Regions from separate parts of the Homo sapiens genome. Here regions 1 and 3 are each reported to be linked to region 2. Evidence: microRNA targets listed by miRTarBase, many of them from high-throughput screens and not tested one by one. Region 2 holds a microRNA gene; each other region holds the end of a gene's coding sequence.

The links. Region 2 holds the annotated microRNA hsa-miR-6780b-5p (UGGGGAAGGCUUGGCAGGGAAGA, at 1,157-1,179, shown strand). A microRNA usually pairs through its seed, bases 2 to 8, with sites in the 3' UTR of a target mRNA and lowers its output. Matches are read on the target gene's strand: a 7mer-m8 pairs with bases 2 to 8, a 7mer-A1 pairs with bases 2 to 7 and ends in A, and an 8mer does both.
Region 1: the mRNA of ANKRD52 is a reported target of hsa-miR-6780b-5p. Seed matches in the 3' UTR shown: 7mer-A1 at 1,107-1,113 and 7mer-m8 at 1,693-1,699.
Region 3: miRTarBase lists ZNF444 as a target of hsa-miR-6780b-5p. Seed matches in the 3' UTR shown: 7mer-m8 at 2,359-2,365.

What each region holds. Positions count from the first base shown.
Region 1 is chr12:56,240,436-56,243,681 of GRCh38, reverse strand. It overlaps ANKRD52 (ankyrin repeat domain 52), which reads left to right. Exons shown (of 28, transcript NM_173595.4): 28 at 290-3,246. The coding sequence ends at 540. Among named protein-coding and RNA genes, the nearest start is that of SLC39A5, 12 kb to the right of the region's middle. RefSeq lists an enhancer at 407-576.
Region 2 is chr6:43,433,391-43,436,636 of GRCh38, forward strand. It overlaps MIR6780B (microRNA 6780b), which reads left to right and starts at 1,152; the gene lies at 1,152-1,230. It overlaps ABCC10 (ATP binding cassette subfamily C member 10), which reads left to right. Exons shown (of 22, transcript NM_001198934.2): 4 at 1,231-1,458; 5 at 2,361-2,517; 6 at 2,748-2,857.
Region 3 is chr19:56,159,601-56,162,846 of GRCh38, reverse strand. It overlaps ZNF444 (zinc finger protein 444), which reads right to left. Exons shown (of 5, transcript NM_018337.4): 5 at 1,954-3,223. The coding sequence ends at 2,646. Among named protein-coding and RNA genes, the nearest start is that of GALP, 15 kb to the left of the region's middle. RefSeq lists an enhancer at 303-402.

The DNA of each region.
Region 1 (3,246 bases), not on the chromosome of region 2:
GGGAACTCTTCAGAGCAGGGAGCCCACACCAGTACTCTGGAGTCTCAGAGGGGAGCCTGCAGGGTCAGGAGGACTCCACACCCTAGGCTTTGACTCCCATGCCCGCCCTTTAACCCGTACTTAGAGAATCTGCCTGTCAGCCTTCCTGGGCCCTCGTCACCCTTGGATTCTGCCGCTGCTGGGTACCTGCCTGCCTTGGCTCCCTCCACAGAGAAGAGACTTCAGGGCTTGGGGGAGGCTGGCTAGGATACAGGACTCTATGCCTCAGTTCTCCCCCTTGGCCCTGCAGGTCACACCCCAGCACTGGCCTGTGCCCCCAACAAAGATGTGGCAGACTGCCTGGCCTTGATCCTTTCCACCATGAAGCCTTTCCCACCCAAGGACGCCGTCAGTCCTTTCAGCTTCAGCCTGCTCAAGAACTGCAGCATTGCAGCCGCCAAGACGGTGGGTGGCTGCGGCGCCCTGCCCCATGGGGCCTCCTGCCCCTACAGCCAGGAGCGGCCCGGCGCCATTGGGTTAGATGGCTGCTACTCTGAGTAGCCCCCTCCAGTGTCCCTCCCCCGCCGGTGGCTTGATATCTAATTCTATTTATTTAGAAAAAGTCTAAACATTTAGGGCACTTTAAAGGAGAACACGACTGGGTGGAGGGGGCGGAGGGGAAGGAAGCCCTGGGGAGCAGCTGCTCACCCCTTTGCCACACCATCTTGGCCTGGCAGGGGTCTGGGACTGACAGGGAGCACCCCAGGCCCTTGGTACCCCCAGGGCGACCCCTTCTGCCAAGTGTCCCAAAATGATTGCTAAATGCCTGGCTCCCCCACTCTTTGACTCCATCTCTTGGTTCCCTCTTTCTGCTGCCAGCTCCCCCGACTCTTCCCTGGGGACTCCTCTCTGTGTCCCCCTTCTCCCCTGCCCCTACTGCCAGGCAGATCCCCTCTTCTTCCATACCCATCACTGCCTCCCTGCTCGGCCGGTCCCTCCATCCCCGCAGCAGTGAGAAGCCTTAATTTCTGGTACTGTGTGAGCACTCTGGGGGTGTCCCCCTCCCCCCTTCAGGGGCAGCTAGAGGATGAGGGGGGAGGATATTTAGCACTGGGGCCTGGAGCTTTTTCCCCACTTCTGTACCCTATCACCCCTAAAGTTCAAATGCAAAACACTTGAAGCAGCAACTACTGTACCTGGGCCCCAATCCTGCACTCTCCCCTGGCTCCTCATATGCAAATCAAGGGCTGGTTCTGCCCCCACAGCCTGCCCCCTCCCCATTCCCTCCCACTCCTAGCCTGGCCCCTAACCACGCACTTTAACCTTGCTTCTTTCTTTTATCTTCTTTTGGGAGGGCAGAGCCTGTGGTCATTCCTGCCCTGGCTCTCCTTCCCTTGAACTTTGAGGCTTGTCATGAATTTTTAAGTAAGCGTTTTATCCTTTAGGGGAAGAAACAAATTAATTTCCTGCCCATTTCAAAACCACAGCCCTAGTATGTCCACTGTGTTTCAGGCATGTGTTTGCATGTATATGGAGGGAGGGACCATGTTCTTCCTCCTGTGCCGCCAAGCCCATAGTTTATCTGTGCTCCCTATCTGCCTCCACCTTCCGTTATGTCCAAGAGTACCCACTGCCCCAGTCACTCCTGATCTGAAGCCAAAGATGGTAGGAGGGGCAGGGCCGACAAGGGACCGTGGCTACTCGGGACCCAGGCTTCCCCTCCAGTGTGAGGAAGAAGCTCTGACCTAGAGAGAGATGAATAGGTACTGGGGCTTGGTCCCTGCCTTCCCAGCAGGGAGGAAAGATGGGATTGAGCTGGGGGCTGCACTGATAAGATTTCTAAAGTCGCACCCCAAAAGCCAAACTGGGCTGGAGTGAAGAGGGGGCAGTTTTCTCTCTAAATGTAGCATTGAATTTGGCCCTGGTCCCTTTAAGTGCTCTGTCCACCCATCTCCTAGTGCAGCCTCCTGGACAGTTGGACCCACTCCTGCAGCCCAGTGTTCCCTTCCTCACACTCAATACCTCAGCCAGGGGCCAAGACACAGAACTTGAATAGAGGTCATGCCCCCTCCGCCCCCACACTGCATCCTTGCCCAGTTTGGCTGCCATCAGTATTGTCCCCTGAGAACTGGACAGGCTTCGTTTACACAGTACAGGGTCTCCCCTGAGGGGGGATCCTTCAGCCTCCCTCCCCTACTCAAGTTTGCTTTATTCACAGTCTTACCCATCTTTTAGTTGTATACCCTGAATGTCTTGCCACCCTTGTCAAGGGTGGGCTGAGGGGAGGGGGGCGTCCCAGGGACCCCCTCCCTCCCCAACGGATACCTTTAACCATACCTCATGCTGGTTTCCAGAAGCCTGGGGTGTTGTCCAAGTCCTTATCTTTTCATGGTCCCTTTTGATCCCCTGTCTCTCTGTGTTTTGCTTCTCCCAACCCTCAGTTCCTAAATCATTTCAAGGCTTCCAAATGACCATTATTGATGAGAAGGATTGTGCAGCTTTTAGTTTTTATTTTTATTTTCAAAGCCAAAGGGCCTTGTGACGCCCCTCTTGCCCACCTCCCTCCACACCGTGTCCTCCCCTATATGACAATCAATGTGACCTCTCTTAAGGGCTGCAGCCCCCATCCCCAACCCTGCTGGCTCTGCAAAGCTTGCCTTCCCTTCAATTCTCTCTCCTGAAATCTTCCCATTCCACCCCCTCCCTCTCATCTTGGTGCTGGGAATTAGGTGGTGGGGGGCAAGGGGAGTGAGAAGATGGGTCCTCCAGAGAGAACTTGCCGGGTGTGAGTCGTGTTCTCCTTTCGTGATGTTTGGTGATGGCGGGAAGCGTCTGAGTGTCAGAGCCCCGTTGTCTTGCTAGATGAGATTTCTGGGGGCTGTCTGCGCCCTGCTGCCCTCAGCGCACTGTCAGCAGTGCTGGGAGGTGGTGGGGAGTCCTCTGTCCCTCCATATGTGGCTGTGAGGAAGCCTGGGGGACAAGCAGCCTCCTCTCCTTATGCCAAAGGAAACCCCACGCCCCACCCTGGGCTCCCCAGCCCTAGTGTTTTTTGAAGCATTTTGACCATTCTCATGGCCACTGCATATTTATTTTAATGTTAAGATTTTTTTTAAACCTCTTTGACTTAAACGGGTGTGGAGAAGTAAAACAGGCAGAATGCCCCCCAGTCTTCATGGGGGAGGGCGGGGAGGGAACAGCGCCTTCCCTTTGCCCTCCCCCTCCCCCCTCTCCCCACCGCAGCCCTAAAGCACTTGCTTCAAGTAATAA
Region 2 (3,246 bases):
CTGGAGACCCCACCCAGCCCAGGTCCCCAGGTCTTCCCATGCACACTACCTGAGGGAGTGAGAGTGACCTCAAAGTTAAGAGCTGAGACTGGAGAAAGGTAGACCTGGGTTCAAATCCTGGCTCTACACTTACTGGTTCAATCACTTCAGACAAGTCACTTAACCTATTTGGGCTTCCCCTTCCTCATCTGTAAAGTGAGAATAGTAGTAGCTTACCTTGTAGAGTTGTAAGGATCTCATGAGATAATGCTTAGTGTAGTGCCAGTCACAAAGTAAGCTCTGAATACATGTGGCCACCCTGGGAGGTAGGAAGTCATCTGTCTGGCTCCAAACAGGTCTTTAGGGCCAGAGCTGGGACCCAAGTCTCCAACCTCCTTATCTAGGGCACAGACCACCCCATGGCTGCATGTAGAGACCTAGGAGAACCTCAGCTGCCTCTTTGGGTAGGCTGAGGGGAAGGGAATAGGTCACTTTCCTGCCTGGGTCAACTCCAGGTGTTTAGGGTTTGGCTGAATCTGCAGAGCTCTGGGTTCTGCAGTGATTGTGGGTACCTTCACAAAGGGGATGGCAGTCCTGGGGGTTCATACAGCATAGTTGTCGACCCTTAGTGGAACAGCTCAGAGTGCTCCTGGAGGGAAGGGAGGTTGATAGATGGTTATGGCATGAGGCATTTTCCCCTACCTGTGACAGCTACAGACGAGGAGTTTTGGCCCTTGCCCATCTTCCCTGGGCCCATTAGCCTGTTTGACCCTGGGCTGTAGTGTGGCCTCTTATGCCTGTGTACTTCTACAGGAATAGTTTCTGTGCCACTCAAGCCGGGGGCCGGAACTGGGGGGCCAGCCCCCGAAGCCCACATCTTTTGGTTTTGGGAGATAGCCCTTTGTCCCTCATCTAATGGGAGGAGAGCTTTTACTCCACTGTGGTGACCTGGCTCCACCTTCCACCACTCCTCCTAGGAAGGTGGGGAATTCCCACTCCAAGCTGTCCCCAGCTGGAGCAAATGGAGAAGTAAGAGACTGGGAGGGGAAGCAACCCAGGGCTGAAAAGGATTTGAAGGGCAGGATTTCCAGAAAGTACTGAGGTGAGGAAGAAAACCAAGACTAGGGCAGTGCAGAGTATCTGGGAGCTTAGAGTACTGAACATTCTGCCAGCAGCCTGGGGAAGGCTTGGCAGGGAAGACACATGAGCAGTGCCTCCACTTCACGCCTCTCCCTTGTCTCCTTTCCCTAGCTTGTGACAGAGCTGCTGAGTGGCATTCGGGTCATCAAGTTCTGCGGGTGGGAGCAGGCACTGGGAGCCCGAGTAGAGGCCTGCCGGGCTCGAGAGCTGGGGCGACTCCGGGTCATCAAATACCTGGATGCGGCCTGTGTATACCTGTGGGCTGCCCTACCGGTTGTCATCTCCATCGTTATCTTCATCACCTATGTCCTCATGGGGCACCAGCTCACTGCCACCAAGGTGAGGACCAGGAAGGAAGGGGACCAGCATCAAGGAGACTTCAGCGAAGTGAAGACAGAGGCTTGGGCCCTCAGTGCTGGCTGAGAAGGAGGGAGGGATCCCTGACTGCCTCATCTCTCAACCAAGGGAAAACTGAAGAAACCTTTTTGTGGGGGCCTTGGATATATAACCCTCCCCTCTGTGAAGGAGTTCCTTTCTTTCCTCTCCTCTACCTTTCACTCCAGCTTCTATTCAGTTCCAGGCTTGGGGTTAGGTCTCTTCATCCTCGTTCTAATGGCCTTAGGAAAAAAATGTATGATGCAATCCTGGGTCTAGCCAAGGCCAGGTGATGTTGCTACTTGGAAATTCTAAAAAAAAGACTCAAAATGAGCTAGGCCTGCCTAGTTAAAAAGATGCAACCTTGGCCAGGCGTGGTGGCTCACACCTGTAATTCCAGCACTTTGGGAGGCCAAGGCAGGCGGATCACCTGATGTCAGGAGTTCGAGACCAGCCTGACCAACATGGTGAAACCTTGTCTCTACTAAAAATATAAAAATTAACCAGGTGTGGTGATGCATGCCTGTGATCCCAGCTACTCAGGAGGCTAGGGTAGGAGAATCACTTGAACCCTGGAGGTGGAAGTTGCAGTGAGCCGAGATTATGCCACTGCACTCCAGCTTAGGTGACAGAGCAAGACTCGTCAAGAAAAAAAAAAATGCAACCTGAATCCCTTGAGGAACATTGGAATTTCTAGGATTCTTTAAGTGACCATCTCTGCCACATCTGATCCCAGGATTGGCCAGCCAGCCCTTCAGTTCTGTCATTGCCCAGTTCTTCCCTCCGTAGACCTGTCCACAGGGCTTCCCATAGAAACAGGCCCTTAGATAACTCCTGGGGCTTCACCCTGCACCCACCTCACTCAGGTGTTCACGGCCCTGGCACTGGTGCGAATGCTCATTCTTCCTCTCAACAACTTCCCTTGGGTGATCAATGGTCTCCTGGAGGCCAAAGTGTCCTTGGACCGGATCCAGCTTTTCCTCGACCTTCCAAACCACAACCCCCAGGCCTACTACAGCCCAGGTAATGGGAAGCTAGTGGGCAGAACCTGGCACAGGGTGAGGAGGGAAGTGGAGCCACTTGGGTGCTGCGCATAGATGTCACCAAGAGGGCTTAGAGAGAGCGGAATCCAAAACAGACTCATTTAGCTTTGGGCAGGTAGATATGGGGCTGGCAAGTGAATTACATGATTTACCCTCCCCAAACAGATTGTGGTAGATTAGGAGCCCAAATCAAGTGGCTTCTCTGTTCAGATCCCCCTGCAGAGCCATCTACAGTATTGGAGCTGCATGGAGCCTTGTTCTCCTGGGACCCAGTTGGAACCAGCCTGGAGACCTTCATCAGTCATCTCGAAGTGAAAAAGGTTTGTTGGACAGACACCCTGGGAGAGTCCTCAGACTAACGAGAGAGATGGGAACTCATGTCAGAGAAGCAGTGACCGAGCCAATCATAGCTGATGGCTCTGCAGCTCTAATTGCTGCAGGAGGGATAGGCATTTGGTGAGCAGGTTCTAATCATGAGGAGATGACACCTCACATCTGAATCTCAGAATAGTTGCACCTCTCTCTGGTCTTTAGGCAGCTTGTATCCATCCAGTCCAGACCAATGGGTGTGCTTGTCTCTCCATGTCCCTCAGAAGCTGCAGCATTCAGAACAGGCCCTGGGGTTTATGTAGCATCTCCCCCAGATTGGGGATCTGGGGGAGAGGCCCAGCAAGTGCTTCCAAGAAATATTTTGCAAATGGGGATCCTC
Region 3 (3,246 bases), not on the chromosome of region 2:
GTGTGTGTGTGTGTGTGTGTGTGTGTTGGAGGGGTCCCCAAAGGGGCACAGAAGTCCCGGGAGGCTTTTCAGAAGAGAAGAGATGGAGCCTGAATGGGCAAAAGCAGCAGCTGTGCTGTTAGGAGCTGGAGTGAATACTGTGAGCCCAGACACCTGGGATGAGATCCACAGATGTGGCCCGGTCCCTTACTCTTTTGGTGCCTCAGTTTCCCCATCTGTACCATGGGGATAACAACAGTGCATGCCTCATCGGTTGGTTATGATGATAAACAAACTGGATTTTAAAAAGGTCTGGCCCAGCAGACTCACTCTGTGTTTGCTGTTATCAGAACCCTGTCCTCAGACCCTGGCCTGACACCACCTCATACTCCCTCTCATGCCTCTTAGTCACTTCCTGAAAGTCTGCAGCAGACGACACGGCTTCTCCCAGCCCGTCTTCTTCCCCACACGGTGGGCATGGTAACGTCCTTAACATGCACCTGTCAGTGTGAAAGCAGCAGGCTGAGATCACACACCAAGTTCCCGTAAGTATTCTGCATTCATTACCTTATTTTTCTTTTGAGACGAAGTCTCGCTCTGTTGCCCAGGCTGGAGTAGGGCAGTGGTGCGATCTCAGCTCACTGCAACCTCTGCCTCCTGGGTTCAAGTGATCCTCCCACCTCAGCCTCCGGAGTAGCTGGGATTACAGGTGTCCACCATCATGCCTGGCTAATTTTTGTGTTTTCAGTAGAGTCGGGGTTTCAGCATGTTAGCCGAGCTGGTCTTGAACTCCTGAGCTCAAGTGATCCACCCACCCGAGCCTCCTAAAGTGTTGCGATTACAGGTATGAGCCACTGCACCCAGCCTTATTTAATTTTCAAAAACAGTCCCTTTTCAGGAGGGGCATTACTACCAGTCCTGTCTTAGGAGGTGGGTGCTGAGGCCTGTGGTCACTTGCCCTTCCTGGATAGCCTGGCACCTAAACCCTTCCCTGCACTGTTGAGTCTTGAAGGCAGACCTAGACTCCAGTGATGTGCACTGGACCGTCCAGGTGGCTGTTTCCAGATGCCCTCGCAGCCCGGCACAGGCTGTACCTGCCCCAGCCCTTGACACTGAGCCAGAAGCTGAAGCAGAGAGCAAGGCAGTGACCGTGGGGGGGCTTGGACGCAAGGTGGTACCGTGGCGGGCTCAGCCACAAGGCGGCAACCATGGAGGGTTTGACATAGAACCCCTCCCAGGCTCAGGCGCTGGGCACACAGGAACCAAAAGGACCAGGGTGAAGCCAGCCCCAAGACTGGGCGGCAGGGGAGTGGTCAGACCAGCGCTCTCATCCTACGCTTTCCAAAGCCCGGCAACTGCCCTTCATCCACCCGGCAGAGGCTACAGATTTCCTCTCTGGAGAGAAGGAACCGGGGTTGCTCGCTGAGCTGACAAGAGGTGGCATCCTGGAAAGATGCAGCTGGCCAAAGCCTGCCCTCCATACGGAGTCCCCCCCTCGGCCAATGGCTCCAGCTAAAGGTGAGAGAATTCCTTGCGTGGCAGAATGGGCCACCCAAGACCTACCAACACTGACACTCAGGACCCCAGTCAAACAGAGTGGCCTTAGCAAGGGAGGTGGGTGCCATTATCATCACTTGCGGATGTGGAACTCATGCCCAGAGGGTATGACCAACCTGTAGGTTCCCAGCCAGGAAGCTGAAGGGCTCAGATGCGAACCTGACTCAGTGTGGCACTCGGCAGGTCCCTTCCAGGAGCCTCATCCCTGCCTCCGTAGGATGGAGGTGGGGACAGCCCTCCTGAGGACACATTTCCTGCACTGCCTCCCACAGCTGTGCCCAGACTCCCAGAGCCTCTCTCATGCCAAGAGAGTCTGTGGTGGGAGCCAAGACAGCTGACCCCAGAAGCCCCGGGCACCCCAGACGCTCGGCCCTGGGAGGGTGGCTGTGCCGGACAGACTCCAGACAGAGCTCAGACTCCGGGTCTACACACAGTGACTTTATTACTCTATGGATGCTGGTGAACTGCCCTCCCCAACCAGCTTCACGGGGGCAGGCATCTCTGTCCATCCCATGCCTTTGGGTCACAGGGGGCAGCAAGACCAAGAAGACCACAGCCAGGCCCTGGGTTCAGCTTCAGAGCCATCACCCGCTGCCTCCCCCAACCCCCAATCTCCTGAGGGAGGAGAATTCCTAGGGACAAGACCCAGACCCCTTTCCTTCAGCCTCTGCTTCACCAAGGGGGCCTGGCCTGCGCCCGAGCTCCTCCTGGCCTGCCCCTCAGGGGTCCCAGGTCCTCACCTCTGCTCTTCAGGCAGGAAAAGGGCAGGGAGAGAGGAATGGAGGAGGGAGAGGGAGGCTGGGCCGCAGGAGAGAGAAGAGGGGGGAAGGAGGAGACATTAGGGAGAGGCCCCTTCACACAGAGAGAGAGGCCGAGAAATCAGGGAGAAGGGGGGGGCTGAGGTGAGACCTGAGAAGGAAAGTGAAATTTGGGGGAAAAGGAGTTGGAAAGGAATAGGAAGGCGTTGGGAAGTTCAGACAAGGGAGGCGCAGGTGGAGGAGGACGATGGGAGGGAAGGAGGAGAGGAAGAGGCCAAGTGGCGCTGGGAGAGAGCAGGTACCGCCCGGGGGCAGCACCAAGGGCGGGAGATGGCGCTGGCCGGGAGGCGGCTAACCCAAGGGCCAGGGCGGGAAGGGGCCTCCACCATCCGGGCCCGGAGCTACCGCCCCCTGCGCGCTGGCCGCTGCCCGGCCGTGGATGCGCTGGTGGCGCAGCACGTGCTCGCGGCGCCCGAAGCCCTTGCCACACTCCCAGCAGGCAAAGGGCCGCGCTCCCGAGTGCGTCTTGCGGTGGCGCACCAGGTGCTCGCGCCAGTAGAAGGTCTTGCCACACTCGCAGCACGCGTGGGGCTTCTCACGGGCGGGCAGAGGGCGCAGCGCGGGCCCGGGGCTGCCGGGGCTGCCGGGGTGCGTGTCGCGGTGGCGCCGCAGGTGCTCCTTGCGCCGAAAGGCCTTCCCGCACTCAGGGCAGGCGTGCGGCTTCTCGCCCGAGTGGCTCTGCCGGTGGCGCAGCAGGTGAGCTGGTTTCAGGGACGTTTTGCCGCACTCGGGGCAGGACGTGGTGCCCGGGGCCGCTAGGAAGGCGGGCAGGCCAGGCGCCAGCGGGGGGCTGCTGGGCTCCTGCTTGTAGGGGCGCACAGCCTGGGAGTCCCCAGGCGCCGGCCCCTCAGCCCCAGGGGCGGTGCCTGCTGGGAAAAGAAAGAGAGTCAGC